2 linked regions of the Homo sapiens genome follow. The protein of the gene in region 1 purifies or fractionates together with the protein of each later gene. This does not show direct contact. Each region holds a gene or a part of one and is shown in the gene's direction. Other genes may lie near its edges.

Region 1 (3,500 bases):
CTTTTCATCAACAGGTATTGAAAATGATTGAACATTGTTTTATTTGTGTAAACAGAACACACTATATATAAAAATCCAATAATTAACTGAATGGATAAGCAAAATGTGGTATAAGCATACAAAGGAATATTATTGGGTCATAAAAAGAATGAAGTACTGATACATGCTACAACATAGATAAACCTTGGAAACATTATGCAGAGTGAAGGAAGGCCAGACACCAAAAGCCACATATTGTATGATTCCATTTAGATGAAATGTCCAGAATAGGCAAATCCCTAGAGGCAGAAAGTAGATTAGTGGGTTACAGGGGCTGGGGAAAGGGAGGAATAAGGAGTGACTGCTAATGGGTATGAGGGTTTTTTTTGGAGGAGGTGATTAAAATGTTCTTCTGCCAGGTGTGGTGGCTCATGCCTGTAATCCCAGCACTTTGGGAGGCCGAGGCGGGAGGATTGTTTGAGCCCAGGAGTTTGAGGCCAGCCTGGGCAACATAGTGAGACCCTATCTCTATTTCAAATACATTTTTTATATTAAAAAAATGTTCTTCAAGTAGTTGGTAATTATTTTTAAAAATGGCCAGGTGCAGAGGCTCATGCCTGTAATCCCAGCACCTTGGGAGGCTGAGGTGGGAGGATCCCTTGAGCCCAGGAGGTTTGGGACCAGCCTGGGCCATACAGCAAGACCCTGTCTCTACAAAAAATACAAAAATTAGCTAGGCATAGTGATGTGCACCTGTGGTCCCAGCTACTCGGGAGGCTGAGGTAGGAGAATCTCTTGAGCCTATGTTGAGCCTGCAGTGAACCCTATTTATGCCATTGCACTCCAGCCTAGGCAACAGAGTAAGACTCTGTCTCAAAAAAAGAAAAAAAAAATTAGGGAAAGGAAGAATAATTAGCCAAGACTTGTAAAACAAAAATCAAATCTCTTCTTTTGATCACATAAAACTTGCTTTAAACTTGCAAAAAAGACCTGATATAAATTCATAAGTAACAAAAAATTGAATTATATTAGAAACCATTAATTCAATGAATACTAAAGCTATGTAGGATGTAGCAAAATATACATATTAAGAAAAGGATTATCATAAAAGTTTTAATCTCCAGGCTCAAACCTAGAAAATCACTCTCCTCAAAGCCAGGGTTAATCATCATGCTCCAAACCAGGTACATTTCACATCACTTTGGGATCCTGGCAACTTTCTCTTTTGTTTTTTTTTTTTTTTGAGACAGGGTCTCCTCTGTCACCCAGGATGGAGTGCAGTGGTGTGATCATAGCTCACTGCAGCCTCGAACTCCTCAAGTGATCTTCCTGCCTCAGCCTCCCAAGTAGCGGGACCACAGGCACACAGCACCATGCCCATCTAATTAAAAAAATTTTTTTTTGTAGAGACAGGGGTCTCTGTACATTTCCCAGGCTGGTCATGTACTCCTAAACTCAAGCAGTCCTCCCACCTCAGCCTCCCAAAGTGCCGGAATTACAGTCATGAGCCACCATTCCCAGCGCTGGTGACTTTCTCCATCACTGGTGACTTTCTCCATCACTGGTATTCACTGCATTAGTGATGACATCATTACAATCTTCAATATGCAACTTTGTAGTCCTACTCTTGCATTCTTACTTTAAAGCCTCAGCATTAAGTTTGAATGTAATATTACAGCATCCTTCATTACTTTAAATCATTGGTTTCAATAGTAATTCATTTAAATCTAAAATGTTAGGCTGCAGTGGCTCATGCCTGTAATCCCCCCAGTTTGGGAGACTGAGGTGGGAGAATCACTTGAGGCCAAGAATTTGAGACCAGCCTGGGCAACACGGCAAGACCCCATCTCTAAAAATTAGTGGCCCGGCGCTGTGCCTCACGCCTGTAATCCCAACACTTTGGGAGGCCGAGGCGGATAGCTTGAGGTCAGGAGTTCAAGATCAGCCTGGCCAACATGGCGGAAACCCATTTCTACTAAAAATACAAAAATTAGCTGGGCATGGTGGCACGCCTGTAATCCCAGCTATTGAGAGGCCGAGGCAGGCAGACTGGGAGGCCAAGGCAGGCAGATTGCTTTGAGACCTGCCTGGGTAACATGGAGAAATCCTGTCTCTACAGAAAAATACAAAAATTAGCCAAGCATGGAGAAACCTCGTCTCTATAGAAAGACACAAAAACTAGCCATGCATGCCTGTGGTCCAGCTACTCGAAAGGCTGAGGTGGGAGGATTGCTTGATCCTGAGAGGTCAAGGCTGAAGTGAGCCATGGTGTGGCACTGCACTCCAGCCAGGGTGACAGACTAAAACCTTGTCTCAAAATAAATAAACACATTTAAAATAAATAAATACAATTAAAACTAAAATTAAAAAATAAAATAAAATGTTAAGAGAATAGCTCAAATTCTCCAAAAGAACTCTTGCACACCATTCCTCCTCTTCTCAAATCTCTATTTTCCTTCCCCAAAGCCAGTAACTGCTTCTCACCCTGACCCTGTGCTTTCTTTCCCGTCATTGCGAAAGAATGGTCCTTGCTTCTGTGCTGATCCCAAACCCTTTTGCCCTCAGATCCTCCTGTCCTTCCCTGGCCCTGCTCTGTATTGGCTGTGGGGTGGGGGTGGCGGTGGAACTGACCCCTGGCGTCTGCATTTCTCAGGCTCCCAGGGCTGTGGCTGACTTTGGCCAATGGGAGGCAAGGACGGGAGACTGAGAGCTTGGGAGGAAGGGAGAGAGGTATGTTTCTTCTCCTTACTCCCTGCCTGGGATGGCACCTTGGGCAGGACTCTGTTTTGCCCATGGCCTCAGCTCCCACCAGATGCCTCTAGTCCCTGGGCTCAGGAAATAGACAACCTCCTTCCACTATCGCTGTAGCCCAAGGAGGGAAGTATTTTTTTCTTTCTTTCTTTCTTTTTTTTTTTTTTTTTACAGAGTCTCACTCTTGTTGCCCAGGCTGGAGTGCAGTGGTGCGATCTCAGCTCACTGCCACCTCTGCCTCCCGGGTTCAAGTGATTCTCCTGCCTCAGCCTCCAGGGTGTGCCACTATGCCCAGCTAATTTTTGTATTTTTGGTAGAGACGGGGTTTTGCCATGTTGACCAGGCTGGTCTTGAACTTCTGACCCCAAATGATCTGCCTGCCTCGTCCTCCCAAAGTGCTGGGATTACAGGCATGAGCCACTGTGCCTGGCCGAAGGAAATATTTTCTTGCTATTGCTAATCTCTGGGTTACCTCGCTATCCCCCATTTAGCTTCACTTCTCCTCCATCACCTGTATGAGGAATTCCCTCTGTGTTAAATATCTGGAGAAGTTTCCTGATTGGACCCTGGCTGTTGCAGCTTCCAAGGCCACCTCTCTTTGTGGCTGGTATCCTTTTCCCATGCATCTTCTCCAGGACTTCCATTCTGCAGTTATCTCTCTGAACTCAGTGTCTTCTTCCCATCAGTATAGGGGTGGACTTTAGTATCTCCTATGTTTAGGCAACATCTCTCCTTTGACTCTGCGTCTTCTCCAGTGGTTGCCCTTCTCT
Region 2 (3,802 bases), on another chromosome or scaffold:
TTTCTGTTGTCTCGGGAAAAGTACTACCTGTTACACATTGTCTGAAAACCATTGTTTCATATATTTTGTCTTTGTATGTTTTTAGTTGTTTAAGATAGAAGAATAAATCCAATTATTATTATTCCATCTTGACCAGGATCCTTTTTTTTCCAAAAATCTATAAAAACATGTTTTTCTCATTGGGGAAGGTGGTTATTTAGGAAAGATTCTTAGTCTACATGACATTTGGCTTTGGTGTTCAGATCCGACTTTCAAGTTACCTATATAATTATTCTTTTTTTTTTTTTAATATTTCGGTTTTTTTCCCCAAGGTTCCAATATTGAAAAATCTGTAAAAGACCTCCAGCGCTGCACAGTGTCTCTTGCACGGTATCGAGTTGTAGTTAAAGAAGAGATGGATGCCTCCATTAAGAAAATGAAACAAGCCTTTGCTGAATTGGAGAGCTGGTAATTTAAGCTGCATTTGATATCAGTAGCATAAAAATGATCATATATAAATATAAAGATGGTCAGCCATTCCCCAAGTTCATTCATTCATGACTAACTACATAGTAGGAGAGACTTATAAATCCTATGGTATATTTAGCTTTCTGCTTTGTTCTATTTCTCTTGGTCACAGTGTGAGAATGGTACAGATAACTCACAATGCTCTAGAAATGAGCTGGAGTTTAATATTGTTTGGAAAGGGACACATAATTATAGAGTAGATCATATACTTTAAAGTCTCCTTTTAGGCCGGTGCGGTGGCTCAAGCCTGTAATCCCAGTACTTTGGGAGGCCGAGGTGGGCGGATCTTGAGGTCAGGAGATCAAGACCATCCTGGCTAACACGGTGAAAACCCGTCTCTACTAAAAATACAAAAAATTAGCTGGGTGTGGTGGCGCGCGCCTGTAGTCCTAGCTACTCGGGAGGCTGAGGCAGGAGAATGGCGTGAACCCGGGAGGCGGAGCTTGCAGTGAGCCAAGATCTCGCCACTGCACTCCAGGCTGGGCGACAGAGCGAAACTCTGTCTCAAAAAAAGAAAAGAAAAAAAAAAGTCTCCTTTTAAACTAAGATCCTATAACAAATGACATGATGTATGTTTTTGAACAAAATTATAAAGTAGAAAAAATCTGTCTTTGCTTTCCTACCTTCTTCCATCCTTTTTAATTTATGCCACTCCAATAAAGTGCCCTTTTATTAATTATTATTATTATTGTTGTTTTTTGAGACAGGGTCTTACTCTGTCTGTCACCCAGGCTGGAATGCTATGGCACGATCACATCTCACTGTAGCCTCAGCCTCCTGGGCTCCAGCAATCCTCCCACCTCAGCCTCCCAAGTAGCTGGTACTACAGGCATGTACCACCACACCTGGCTCATTTTTTAATTTTTAAATATTTTGTAGAAATGTGGTCTCACTATGTTGCCCAGGCCAGTCTTGAACTACTGGGCTCAAGTGATCTGCCTGAAGCTGGGTAATTTATAGTGAATAGAGATTTATTTTTTACAGTTTTGGAGTCTGAGAAGTTTAAGGTCAAGGGGCCCACATCTTGGCAAGGACCTTGCTGTGTCATTCCATGGCAGATGGCAGAAGGGCAAGGGAGCATGCATGGGAGAGCCAGAGAGGGCCAAACTCAATTTTCTAATGAACCCACTCTCTCAATAACAAAATTAATTCATTTGTGGGACTCTCCCCTCATGACCTAATCATCTCTTAAAGGTCCCACCTCTCACCACTGTAGCACTGAGGATTAAGTTTCCAACACACGAGCTTTGGGGATCACATTCAAACCATAGCAATATTCTAATGTTTCCTGGAACACTGAAGCTGTTTTAACTGTTAGATATTAAGGTGTTAACGGATATTTGTTTTTTTGTTTTGTTTTGTTTGTTTTTTGAGACGGAGTCTCTGTCGCCTAGGCTGGAGTGGAGTGGCCCAATCTTGGCTCACTGCAACCTCCGCCTCCCAGGTTGCAGCCATTCTCCTGCCTCAGCCTCCCGGAGTAGCTGGGACTACAGACATGTGCCACCATGCCTGGCTAATTTTTTGTGTGTTTTTAGTAGAGATGGGGTTTCACCATGTTGGCCAGGCCGGTCTCGAACTCCTGACCTCAGGTGATCTGCCCATCTCTGCCTCCCAAAGTGCTGGGATTACAGGAGTGAGCCACCGTGCCCAGCTGGTGTTAACAGATGTTTAAATTCTAGCTCCTTTGTGGGAGGTATTTTATAAGGGATTTTTTGAAACTAGAAAAGACTTAAGGACCATATTAAAATGACAGGAAGACAAGCAGCTAGGGTGATGTTTTGAGACTTAGAACTTGTTCATTATACTTATTTTTAGTAACTGTCTAGATCTGAAATATGACAGGAAGTGTTCATGAAAAGAACAAACCATACATGCTTTCTTGCTGCCTGTAGACTGTTCCCTCAGGTTATACCTAACTGTGTCTCTGTTCACAAATTTAGTCTAGTCACTTTTGCCACAACATATAAGAGATAGAGGAGAGTGTAGGTCCCCTCAGTCCTCCTGGTCTCTGGAATTGCAGAGGAGTAGTTAATCAAAATGAAATAATGCCTCCAAAAAGTTAAATCATCAGAACCAAAACTTACTTTGGGGCTAGATAATTCATCTTAGTCTACCCATGCCTTGTCCTGAACTCTAAGTTTTACTTTTCAGGTTTTATGGCTAGGAATTTAATGTCATGTCTTCTGTTTTTCTTTGTTTGTTTGAGACAGGGTCTGGCTCTGTCACCCAGGCTGGAGTGCGGTGGCACGGTCATGGCTCACTGCAACCTCCACCTCCTGGGCTCAAGCCATCCTCCCACCCTCAGCCTCCCTAGTCCCCTAGCTGGGACTACAAGCATGTGCCACCACACCTGGCTAATTTTTTAATTTTTTGTAGAGATGAGGTTTCACCATATTGCCCAGGCTGGTCTCCAATTCCTGGGCCCAAGCAATCCTCTCATCTAGGCCTCCCAAAGTGCTGGGATTACAGCCATAAGCCACTGCGCCTGGCTGTCTTCTGTTTTTCTTGACACATATTTTTGCTCCTGCCAGATTACTCATTGTCTCAAAACTTAACATTCACATTTCCTCTTCCATCTACTAGTTAATGCCACTTTCCCAGCCTGAAAATGTTCTCCTATTCCTCTGTATTTATCTAAATCCCACCATTTCTCCAAACTTTCCTTAAATTAAGGTCTAACTTCTGGAAATTATTTTAGGTAACTGATTTTTCCCCTTTCTGAACCTCTAGGAGGAAGCACCATGCCCTTTGCACTGCATTCTTGTCATATAAGATATTGTTGGCTTGTTTAGAAAATAAAGAGCTGGCTGGGCACAGTGGCTCATGCCTGAATCCCAGCACTTTGGGAGGCCAAGGCGGGCAGATCACAAGGTCAAGAGTTCAAGACCAGCTTGGCCAACATGGTGAAACCCCATCTCTACTAAACATTCAAAAATTAGCCGGGCGTGGTGGCGTGCACCTGTAATCCCAGCTACTAGGGAGGCTGAAGCAGGAGAATTGCTTGAACCCAGGAGGTGGAGGTTGCAGTGAGCTGAGATCGCGCCATTGCACTCCAGCCTGGGCGATAGGGCGAGACTCCATCTCAAAAAACAAAGAAAAAAGAGCTGGGCGCGGTGGCTCATGCCTGTAATCCCAGCGCTTTGGGAGGCCGAGGCGGGTGGATCACGAGGTCAGGAGATGGAGACCATCCTGGCTAACAAGGTGAAACCCCGTCTCTACTAAAAATACAAAAAGTTAGCCGGGCGTGGTGGCGGGCGCCTGTAGTCCCAGCTACTCAGGAGGCTGAGGCAGGAGA

Evidence for each region. Proteins that work in one complex are often made in the same cells at the same time.
Region 2: the proteins of SRGN (region 1) and SPATS2 purify together in Homo sapiens (affinity purification with mass spectrometry, with the first as the bait; one study listed by BioGRID). This does not show direct contact.

The regions. Positions count from the first base shown.
Region 1 is NC_000010.11:69,098,103-69,101,602, forward strand, and holds part of SRGN (serglycin isoform 1 precursor), read left to right. Parts: intron 1-3,500. UniProt on the Homo sapiens protein: Plays a role in formation of mast cell secretory granules and mediates storage of various compounds in secretory vesicles. Required for storage of some proteases in both connective tissue and mucosal mast cells and for storage of granzyme B in T-lymphocytes.
Region 2 is NC_000012.12:49,499,759-49,503,560, forward strand, and holds part of SPATS2 (spermatogenesis-associated serine-rich protein 2), read left to right. Parts: intron 1-311; coding exon 312-447; intron 448-3,802.